Linked DNA regions of Homo sapiens. The protein of the gene in region 1 purifies or fractionates together with the protein of each later gene. This does not show direct contact. Each region holds a gene or a part of one and is shown in the gene's direction. Other genes may lie near its edges.

Evidence for each region.
Region 2: the proteins of ASIC2 (region 1) and PLD2 purify together in Homo sapiens (affinity purification with mass spectrometry; one large-scale study listed by BioGRID and IntAct). This does not show direct contact.
Region 3: the proteins of ASIC2 (region 1) and PLD1 purify together in Homo sapiens (affinity purification with mass spectrometry; one large-scale study listed by BioGRID and IntAct). This does not show direct contact.

What each region holds. Positions count from the first base shown.
Region 1 is NC_000017.11:33,290,384-33,294,735, reverse strand, and holds the start of ASIC2 (acid-sensing ion channel 2), read left to right. Parts: upstream 1-1,440; 5' UTR 1,441-2,620; coding exon 2,621-3,328; intron 3,329-4,352. UniProt on the Homo sapiens protein: Forms pH-gated trimeric sodium channels that act as postsynaptic excitatory sensors in the nervous system. Upon extracellular acidification, these channels generate rapid, transient inward currents that fully desensitize.
Region 2 is NC_000017.11:4,820,482-4,824,017, forward strand, and holds the end of PLD2 (phospholipase D2), read left to right. Parts: intron 1-1,311; coding exon 1,312-1,426; intron 1,427-2,158; coding exon 2,159-2,383; 3' UTR 2,384-2,949; downstream 2,950-3,536.
Region 3 is NC_000003.12:171,800,421-171,804,066, reverse strand, and holds part of PLD1 (phospholipase D1), read left to right. Parts: intron 1-3,646. UniProt on the Homo sapiens protein: Function as phospholipase selective for phosphatidylcholine. Implicated as a critical step in numerous cellular pathways, including signal transduction, membrane trafficking, and the regulation of mitosis.

The sequences.
Region 1 (4,352 bases):
GTTGTGTGTATGTATGTATGCAGTATGCATTGGGTATATATGCATTTAAGTGTATATGTTGGTATACATGTATGTTCATGTATATGTGTGTTGTATGTGTAGTGTGTGTGTGTGTTTGTGTATATGTGTGCTTGTACATGTGTGACTGTGTGGATGTATGTATGTGGGTGAGTGGGAAATGAGGGGCTCAGAGGTCCTCTTCTCCAGAGACCAGATGCAGGGAGTCATCACGCTGTAAGGGTGCCCTCAGGTCAGTGGGGAGGGAAAGCCCATCCCAGCACTGCTTCTCTCCTGCTTGGAAACCCACAGCTCATTCAACAGATCTGGCCAAATTGCCCCTAATTCATCATTACAAAGACGGTAAAACTCCTCTCCACACCCAAATCTCTGCTTCCCCAAGCCTCCTCTCCCCAAAGGATACACACGTTGGTCCTTCTTCCACTGGAGCATCCTCCCACCCTTGGAGTCCCTTCACACTGCCTCCACCACCAAATTCTACTCTCCGGATAATGTCTGGAAAACCCCTTTATCTCATGGAGTAATGGGGCTCCAAGTGTTCCCTGTCCCAGCAAGGGGAATGGGAAAGATGGAGTCTCCTGTCCCTGGAAGTCCTACTCCCCCTTCCCACCCTCTTGGAGAGCTGTGCTTGGCAGACTGGGCCAGGGCTGAGCAGTAGGCACTTCCAGGGAAGGGGCTGGGACACACATGGGATGTCCCTAAGAGGCTGAGGGGAGGATTGTCGCACTGAGCCTACCCTGCTCGCAATGCCTCAACACACATACTCATTACATACAACACATGCACATACACACACACACAAAACACACCAACCACACACCACATCTAGAAACCCTGATATCCATCCACACATCAACACATGCATTTCAAACCCAGGACTCACTAAGTGCACACATACACACACGGAACATACACGTCACCATAGACACTACATCCTGCATGCACCACACTCTAATGGCCACAGCACGCCACCCGCAGACATGCTCACATTCAAGAGTTTCACAGAAATGCCCATTCACACATACACAATGCACATCCTACGCACACCCAATACTTGGCACCACACTCGCAATCGTGTTCAAATGCCCACACTACACAGCAACTCGCTCTCTCTACAGCCCATCTCACACCCTCAGGAGTCCTCTCACCCCTGTCTACACTGGGGCCACATCAGCACAATGGTTATACTACTTATCTCTCCCACAAGCCCATACACCTGAGCACATCTGTACAGCGCATCCCCATCCCGCTCCCCACCACACCCCACCCCCGCACCCGGCCGACTCCAGCAAGAGGCTTCCCGCTCGGTGTGCAGCGGCCACAGTGGCCAGGAATTAAAATGCAGCGAGGAGGAGCCGGGCGCGTCAGCACCGCGTCTCCAGGAGCGCACGGCGCTCACGGCCGCCGCCGCCCCGCCCGCCCGGAGCCGCGGGGCCAGCGAGCTGAGGAGCAGGTGCTCGGAGCCCAGCCGCGCCAGCGTCGCGCGGCCGCTGCCCAAGTTCGCCTGGGGCCCAAAGAGGGTTCTCCCGGGCAACCGGGGAAGGAGCTTAGCCGGCGTCACGGCCACCGCGAGCTCGGAGTCTCGAGAGGAGAAGGGCGCGCGGAGCAGCGAGTCCGGGTCACCCCCGGGAGGTGTTGGCGGGTCCCCGCAGTCCCCAGCTCTTGTCGCCGCGGGGGCAGAGAGAAGACGCGAGAGACAGCAAGGCTGGGCTTTTCTGGAGACGCGAGGCACCTGGGAGAGCCGAGGCGAGAAGCGACACTTCCCTGCGGCTAGCATCCTTGAAGGACCCCGGCGGCGAACAGCCTCCCGCAGGACGCCCTGAGAAGCTCTCAGCCCCAGGCGAGAGCGGGCGCCTGGCAGGACTTAGGCGCAGGACTTGGGGAAGCCTAAGCAGGTCTCTGCCGAGCGCAGCCCAGGGAGCAGTAACAAGGAAGGGTCCTGGAGGGGAAGGGAAAGAAGGCGGCAGCCGGCAAGGCGACCACTCACCCCCGTACACACCCACCCCGCCCGCCCAGCCAGGAGCCGCGGTGCGCCTCTGGGGGCGCTCGTTCCTTGGCGCCTTCTCTCCCGTGTCCCAGCACCGCTGGGCTACGGGCCGGGCTGGTGGGGTCCCTGGGGATGTCCAGATCAGGCATGGTGGCCGAGTGGCCCTTCTCCCAGGACCAGCGTAAAAGCTGGGGTTAGGCGGGGCAGGGGGGACTCGGCTCAGGGTCCCCCGAGGTCCAGGACGAGGGAAGGCGGGCGCAGCACCCAGGGACTGGAGAGGCGGCTCCCAGTGGGACCCCTCCAGAAGTAGTGCCGGGCGCCGGGCATCCTCCAGGAAGACCAGGGGCCGGGAAAGCCTGGGAGGCGCTCGGGAGAGGCCACTGCCAGGGGCTGCGGGCTGAGGCGGCGCTCAGCCCCGGGCGGGCGCCCGCGGAGGCGGCAGCGGCGGCGCCGGGCGGGCATGCCGCGCCACCGGAGCTCCTTTCGGGCGCACGCTTCCCTGGCGCGGGCTGCGCGCGGCTGCCGCTGCTGCTGCTTCCACTGCTGCTGCGGACTCCCATGGCGGCTCCGCCCGGCCGGGGCCGCCGCCGCTGCCGCCAGCCGCGGGCTGAATGAATGAGCCGGATTGGCGGAGCCGGGCTGCCCGCAGCCGCGCTCACCGGCCCGGGACGCTTCCGCATGGCCCGCGAGGAGCCGGCGCCCGCGGCGTTGGCGGCTGCCGGGCAGCCCGGGGGCGGCAGAGGCGGCGAGCGGGCGCTGCAGGGGCCAGGGGTCGCCCGCAGGGGGCGGCCATCGCTGAGCCGCGCTAAACTGCACGGGCTGCGGCACATGTGTGCCGGGCGCACGGCGGCTGGGGGCTCCTTCCAGCGGCGGGCGCTGTGGGTGCTGGCCTTCTGTACATCCTTCGGCTTGCTGCTGTCCTGGTCCTCGAACCGCTTGCTCTACTGGCTCAGCTTCCCGTCACACACGCGGGTGCACCGCGAGTGGAGCCGCCAGTTACCCTTCCCCGCCGTCACTGTGTGCAACAACAACCCGCTGCGCTTCCCGCGCCTCTCCAAGGGGGACCTCTACTATGCCGGCCACTGGCTCGGGCTGCTGCTGCCCAACCGCACCGCGCGCCCGCTTGTCAGCGAGCTGCTGCGGGGCGACGAGCCGCGCCGCCAGTGGTTCCGCAAGCTGGCGGACTTCCGCCTCTTCCTGCCTCCGCGCCACTTCGAGGGAATCAGCGCCGCCTTCATGGACCGCCTGGGCCACCAGCTGGAGGACATGCTGCTCTCCTGCAAGTACCGCGGCGAGCTCTGCGGGCCGCACAACTTCTCCTCCGTGAGTTGCCCTCCGCGCGAACCCGCTCCCTCTGCGCCCCACTCCCCGGCAGTCAGGAGGCCTGGTGTTCCGCCCCCTCGGGGCTGTCCCCAGGCCTCTTGCAGTGTTACCACTCCACGATGCCAAGGCAGAACCCATTCTTGGGTCCCCTGAGTCTTCTCCTGCAGGTTGTGGGAACTTGGACTTAACTGTAGGAGGAGTCGCCTCCCACCAGTGGGAGCTCCCCTGTCCCAGCCCCTCCTTCCAGTGTCAGCCCCCAAAGCCCTCATTCTACTCCTTATGGTCCCGTCTGTGAATATTAGTCAGCCTCCTTCTTCCCGACCTCAACTCCAGGCCCTCAGGACTCCAAGAAACTGCTCTGTGTTTGGAGTGTAGATCTCTTAAGTGCGGACTTCTTGTCTTTGGGAAAACCAATAGACGGCTCTTAAAAAAAAAAAAAAAAAAAAGGAAGCGCTTGAAAAATGGATCATCAGGGGAATCACGCAGAGTCCCTAAGCAGGCCTACGATCCGAAGCAGCTTATGTCTTCAAAGTTCCCAAACACTTAGAATCTAGGAGAACTTGTGAGGAAACTCCCAGAAAACCAACACTGAAGCTGTAGACAGTTTGGTGGGAGAGGCAGCAGCATGCTTTGGCTACTTTTTCAAAATGCAGGAGTCTTGAGCATCCAGCGGAACTGAGCAGTGGTGCGCCAGGGTTGGGCCCTTCACCTGGCCTCCGTCCCCCATAAAATGTAAGTGTGGGTCTTCTGGTCTGGAGGATTGCTCCGGAGTTGAGAAAGCATCCTAGCAGGCATGTGGATGCAAACAGCCGCGGCCAGGAGAAGCTGTGCTTAGGGTTTGTAAACCATTTGCTGTGCCGGTTCCCCCACGCTGTGGGTCTGGATAACGCAGCTGTTGGACAGAAGGTATCTGCCTTGTGCAGTCTGCCTTGGAGGAGTTCTGGTGCCAGGCCCCAGCATGATGCATGCCTGTCCAGCCATTCGTGTGTAAATGTCCCTTAGGTGGGTTTGGGCTTTTCCACTA
Region 2 (3,536 bases), about 28 Mb from region 1:
GATCTTGAACTCCTGACCTCAGGCTTCGGCCTCCCAAAGTGCTGGGATTACAGGCATGAACCACCGCCCCTGGCCAAAAAAAAAAAAAAATCTTTTTTTTTTTTCTTTTTTTTTGAGAGGGAGTCTCACTGTCGCCCAGGCTGGAGTGCAGTGGCGCGATCTCGGCTCACTGCAGGCTCCGCCGCCCAGGGTTCATGCCATTCTCCTGCCTCAGCCTCCCGAGTAGCTGGGACTACAGGCACCCGCCACCTCGCCCGGCTAATTTTTTGTATTTTTAGTAGAGACGGGGTTTCACCGTGTTAGCCAGGATGGTCTAGATCTCTTGACCTCGTGATCTGCCCGCCTCCGCCTCCCAAAGTGCTGGGATTACAGGCATGAGCCACCACGCCCGGCCAAAAAAAAAAAACTTTTGTGTTTTGTTTGTTTGTTTGTTTTCTTTTTGAGACGGAGTCGCTCTGTCACCCACGCTGGAGTGCAGTGGCGCGATCTCGGCTCACTGCAAGCTCCGCCTCCCGGGTTCATACCATTCTCCTGCCTCAGCCTCCCGAGTAGCTGGGATTACAGGCGCCCGCCACCATGCCCAGCTAATTTTTTGTATTTTTAGTATAGATGGGGTTTCACCGTGTTAGCCAGGATGGTCTCGATCTCCTGACCTCGTGATCCGCCCATCTCAGCCTCCCAAAGTGCTGGGATTACAGGCATGAGCCACCGTGCCCGGCCAAAAAAAAAATCTTTTAAAAGTAATTTTTTTCACAGGTTCTGAGGATTGGGGAAAGAACAGAAAAAGAAGAAAATTTAAAATAAAAATAATTTTTTAAAGCATCAAGGTAGTCATCAAAGTCAAGACAAATCAGAACTCTGTTGGCTTCTTTTACACTTATTTTACTATTTTATATTGCATTTATTTTGTTTTTGTTTGTTTGTTTGTTTTGAGATAGGGTCTTGCTCTGTCACCCAGCTAGAGTTCAGTGGCGTTACCACGGCTCACTGCAACCTCGACTTCGCCAGCTGAAGTGATCCTCCCACTTCAGCCTCCCAAGTAGCTGGGACTATAGGCACATGCCACCGTGCCTGGCTAATTTTTGTATTTTTTTGTAGAGATGGGGTTTTGCCATATTGCCCAGGCTGGTCTTGAATTCCTGAGCTCAAGCAATCCACCTGCCTCATCCTCCCAAAGTGCTGGGAATACAGGCGTGAGCCACCGCACCCAGCCAATTTTGAATTACCTGAGTAGGGACAATGTAACTTTTCTGGTACTCAGGTTCTCTAAGGATCTTAATCTGGCCCTGCTGGGACCCCTTTCTCCTATAGTGTGATTCTTGGAGCAAATACCCGGCCAGACTTGGATCTCCGAGACCCCATCTGTGATGACTTCTTCCAGTTGTGGCAAGACATGGCTGAGAGCAACGCCAATATCTATGAGCAGGTGGGAACTTGGGAGGGGTGGGGGAGAGTGGCCTGGGGAAATTTGTGGATTATCCTGCTCAGGGTAGGATGGAGAGAAGCGCCACCATACAGTCATTATTGGAAGGGGGATGAGGGCCTGGGGACATTTGCTATCAAGAGATTTAGTGGCCCAGGCCGGGTGCAGTGGCTCATGCCTGTAATCCCAGCACTTTGGGAGGCCAAGGCCCGGTGGATCACCTGAGGTCAGGAGTTTGAGATCAGCCTCCCAACATGGCAAAACCCCATCTCTACTAAAAATACAAAAAAATTAGCTAGGTGTGGCTGGGAGGCTGAGGCAGGAGAATCTCTTGAACTCAGGAGACAGAGATTTCAGTGAGCCGAGATCACGCCATTGCACTCCAGCCACCTGGGCAACAAGAGCAAAACTCTGTCTCAAAAAAAAAAAGTACAAAAGTTAGCCGGGCATGGTGGTGGGCACCTGTAATCCCAGCTACTCAGGAGGCAGAGGCAGGAGAATCACTTGAACCCGAGAGGTGGAGATTGTAGTGAGCCGAGATCGCACCATTGCACTCCAGCCTGGGCAAAAAGAGTGAAACTCCGTCTCAAAAAAAAAAAGAGAGAGAGAGTTAGTGGCCCAGGGTCAACGGGGGGTATGGAGAGATGGTATGGGGGAAGGGGTCTAGCCTAGTTGGACTTAGATTGTTGGGAGAGTCTCCCCAAGCCTTACTGGCGTCCATGCCCCCGCCCACAGATCTTCCGCTGCCTGCCATCCAATGCCACGCGTTCCCTGCGGACTCTCCGGGAGTACGTGGCCGTGGAGCCCTTGGCCACGGTCAGTCCCCCCTTGGCTCGGTCTGAGCTCACCCAGGTCCAGGGCCACCTGGTCCACTTCCCCCTCAAGTTCCTAGAGGATGAGTCTTTGCTGCCCCCGCTGGGTAGCAAGGAGGGCATGATCCCCCTAGAAGTGTGGACATAGTTGAGGCCCCCGTCAGGGAGAGGTCACCAGCTGCTGTGCCCCACCACGTCTGGCTCCCTGCCCCTTAACCCCAAGGACTGAGGGCAGTGCCCTTTGAGATCTGGGGAGGCAGGCATTCCTGAAGGGAACTAGAGGTGTTACAGAGGACCCTTACGTGAGAAATAGCTGAAAAGGGCACTCCCAACCCTGGGCTGGGGAGGAGGAGAGAGTCCCAGAGCTCATCCCCCCTGCTGCCCAGTGCAAACCACTTCTCCATGCTGCAAAGGAGAAGCACAGCTCCTGCCAGGGTGAGCAGGGTCAAGCCTCTTATTCCAGGAGAAGGGGGCTCTGCCCCAGGCCCTACTACCCATTGTTCCCTTCCTCTTCCTGCCCTTGAACCCCCTCCCTGTCCCAGGGCCCTCCCAGCCCATTGCTGCCAAGGTGGAGGGAAGGATAAAGCCACTTCTGGCTTCAGCCCCCACCAGGGGAAGGAAGGAGGGCACATTAACTCCCTCCACCAGCCTGCTGACAGACACTAACTTTGTATCCGTTCAATAAGCATTTCATAAATAAAGGTGTAGAAAAGGTTCATGCGTCTTCCTTGGAGGAACTAACTGCTCGTTCCAGCCTCCCGTTCCTGCCCACACGGGGCACCAGTCCCCTTCACCTTATCTCCACCCTCCTCCACTCTCCTCTCTCCACCTCTGTTCTACCTATCTGTGGCTTCGGGAGCTCGGTCACCTGGCTCCTGAGAGGAGAAGGTGTTGACACAGTGCCGCCTGGGTAGAAGGACGGGCAGGGCCCAACCAGGGCACCTGGAGAACTGTGGAGCTGCTATCACAACCGCAGGTGAGGGAGATGCTCTGAGAAGGACCTAGAGAGGCTGCCTCTTGTTCAAGCAACAGCCCTGGTAGAGGCTTAATGAAGGCCCTGTGGGAGTGGTTGAGGGTATAGGCTTAAGGTCAGGAAGACCTGGACCCAAATCCTGGACTCCTCAATGAGAAGCTAGGTGAACTTGTCAAGTCATTCACTTCTCTGGGCCTCAGTGGTCCCCGCTGGGAAATGGGAATAATACTTACATGACTAGCTTGCTGTCAAGACTCAGCCATTGACTTAAATATTTATTGATTCCCTGCTATTTGCCAGCTCTGTTCTAGACTCACAGAAGTGAGTG
Region 3 (3,646 bases), on another chromosome or scaffold:
GATGTTTTAGATATTGTTTTTTAAATGTCACCATTATTCCTGCTTTGGAATAAAAAGAGGTAAGAGGTAAGGTAGGAGTACAGAATTTGGGGATGAAGTATATTTTTGGCACTAACATCACTGTGATGTTAAAACTATTTTTAAAAGATAATAAATACCCACACCTCTGACTTACTAATTATTTTACTAAATTTATTGCTCTCTATGCTATTTATGTTTATTATTTCTATATGGTGAAAATACTGTAACTATTGCACGTCTTCCCCAAACTGTATGTTCTAGTGATATCATGTTGGTAACTTGGAAGCGGCCATGATAGGAATTTCTTTTTTTGAGACAGAATTTCACTCTTGTTGTCCAGGCAGGAGTGCAATGGTGCTATCTCAGCTAACTGCAACTTCCGCCTCCCAGGTCCAAGCGATTCTCCTGCCTCAGCCTCCCAAGTAGCTGGGATTACAGGTGCATACCACCATGCCAGGCTTATTTTGTATTTTTAGTAGATACAGGCTTTCACCATGTTGGTCAGGCTGGTCTTGAACTCCTGACCTAGTGATCCTCCTGCCTTGGCCTTCCAGGAATATTTACACCATCGAAATTGGCAAACACTACAGTTAGGGTTTCTCCTCCACCCGGACCTGGTTGCTAAGCATTTCTCAGCACACCACTGGCTTTGCCCAGGGGGTATATCCGAGCTTCTCCACCCCATCTTTCTTTCTCATTATGACCAAAGAGATTTCTCCTGCACTTTTCTGTCAACCGTCACAGTGATTCTGAATTTGGGGATGTGGTTGGGGAGAAAGGAATACGCTTAGTTATGCAATGTTCTTATCTCTCTGTGCCTATGATCTGGTCTGGTACAAGTCTCAACTGCATTCAATTTAACCCTTGATTCTTCCTTTTGTAGAGATAGAATTCTCCCTGCAACCTCCTGAAGAGCTGGCCTTCCCTCCTTCTCCATCACAGTAGTTCCAAAGTCTGGCTAAACAAAATCACCTGGGAACTTCTTAAAATACAAATTTCCAGGTTCTATCACATATGTAATAAATTTAGATTCTTGAGGAATGGGACTCAAAATAGTATTTTGTAAGTTCCCTTGGGAGTTTGATGATCACCCCATGTGCCTTCTGGGCCCCTCTTGTGGGCTCTTGCTCTCCAGCCCTGGCACCTGTGTACCTTGCTTAGAATCAGGTCATCTGGGCTGCTGGACCCTGGCCACATTGTATGGTAGCCTCGATTTTTATGTTTGAACTCAAATTCTGATCCTGTGAAACTTGGTAATCAGGGGCCACTCTTTGCCCCATTGGCCTGATTTCTCATGCTCATTCATTGGAGCCTGGGTTTCTAACTAGGAAGGCAGCTAGCGTGTTGCAGGGAGACTATCAGAGGAGTCAGGTGTGCTAAGTTTCATTTCTACTTTAGCGTCTGTGTAACCTTGATCAACTTGTTTCTCACCTTTCTGAACTACAGTTGCCTATCTCCAGAGTTTGTTAGGAAGGTTGTTTTTAGAACACATCAAGCTTTGTTCCATCTTAGGGCCTTTTAATCATGCTATTCCCTCTGCCTGGAGCACACTTCTCCTAAGTCTTTGCATGGCTTCCTTCTTTTTTGTCATTTGGATCAATGACAAAATGGTCAAATGTTATCTCCTTGGAAAGGTTTTTTCCCTGACCATTGAAAGCTGCCTCACTTCACAGTCCACATTGCATTGCTTGCTACCTGATCCTGTTCCAGCCTTTCACCTAGGGTTATTTTCATGCTAGGATTCACCACTATCTGAAATTCTTTTTCTTTTCTCTTTTTCTTGCTTACTGGGTTTTCTACACAAGAACTTAAGCTTTATGAGAGTAGGGACTTTCCTGACATGTAGTAGGTGCTCACTAACTACTTGTTGAATGACTACCTTTCCAAGTTGTTATATAAATATATGATGTTAGTGTGAACCCTGGTTCCCAAGGGATTCATTTGTTTTCCTAATTGTTCTTTTCTGACCTCACAGATGTTGCTGTTTTTATGACAATGATTCATTGCTGAGATATTACTGCAATTTGGAACAAAGTGCTGCTCTCAACTGATGAGAAATAAAATCTGTAGCTTTCTATGTGAATGCCTCCTGTCGTTTTCAGAGAGCTTGCAAAAACTTGTTTCAGTTGCATCTGTCATGTGGGTGTATAATCTGTGATAGAATGGATCGATTAAACATGAAAGTATCGTAACATAAATGAGACTGATTTGGGGAAACTCCTGTTTCCTACCTTTTTTGAGTTCTACCGGGGTGGTTTTTGGTAGTGTCATGGGGACTAGGGAAATGTGTATCACTTTGTAAGAAAGGCAGGCCATAGGCTGGGCACAGTGGCTCATGCCTGTTATCCCGGCACTTTGGAAGGCTGAGGCAGGTAGATCACTTGAGGACAGGAGTTCAAGACCAGCCTGACCAACACGGTGAAACCTCATCTCTACTAAAAATACAAAAATTAGCTGCGTGTGGTGGTGAGTGCCTGTAATCCTAGCTACTTGGGAGGCTGAGGCAGGAGAATTGCTTGAACCTAGGAGGTGGAGGTTACAGTGAGCTGAGATCGTGCCATAGCACTCCAGCCTGGGTGACAGAGCGAGACTCCGTCTCAAAACAAAAACAAGAAACAAAAAGAAAGGCATGCCAGAAACGCATGTTGGATATGTTCGTCCTGTCTGATCTCACCAGATACACGGGGTAGGTTTGACTGACAGTGAAGTAATTTTTGCAGATCCATTGCCTGGAAGGCCAATAAAGTTGGCAGTGAAAGCTTTCATCCTGTATTTGCAATAGCCCCTCTTCAGGATGGTGTTGAAGAATTTATCAAGCACAGAGTCTTTTTGGTGCTAACACAGTACTAGGCCTAGGCTAGTGAGTCTAAAATGTGGTTCCAGCCCCACAGCTTATAGTCTAATGCAGTCATCCAAAGGCAGGACTGAATTGTGCAGCAGAATCCTGCCAGGCCTCCTGAAATGGGCTGGCTTTTATAATGATTGTATGTTCCAATTTTCCTTGATAGTGATTTTCAAACTGCTTTGTTTCAGGGCAGTACAGTGGTATGAATATTTGTCTTCCTCAAATTCATATGTTGAAATCCTCACCCCAAGGGGTGATGGTATTAGGAGGTGAGGCCTTTAGGAGATGATTAGGCCATGGTGGCTCTGCCCTTATCAATGAGATTAGTGCCTTTATAAAAGAGGCCAGAGAGGGACCTCTGACTCTCTTCACTAAGTGACGGGTTAGTGAAAAGGCAGCCTCTGGGGAAGCAGGCCTTCACCAGACACCAAATCTGCAAGCACCTTGATCTTGGACTTCCTAGCCCCCAGAACTGTGAGAAGTAAGTTTCTGTTGTTTATAAGCCACCTAGTCTATGGTATTTTGTTACAGTAGCCTGAGTGGACTAAGACAGGTGGCTGGCATTGGAGTAGAGATTGGGTCCAGGGATGTAGACAGCAGACTTCTGGAGCATCTCTAAATACCACATTTAATCAGAGCATCTCATTTAGAAAACATACTATTGTATATTTGCCTTTTAAAAATTATGTTTGGGCCAGGCACGGTGGTTCATGACTGTAATCTCAGCACTTTGGGAGGCCAAGGTGGGTGGATCACTTGAGATTAGGAGTTTGAGACCAG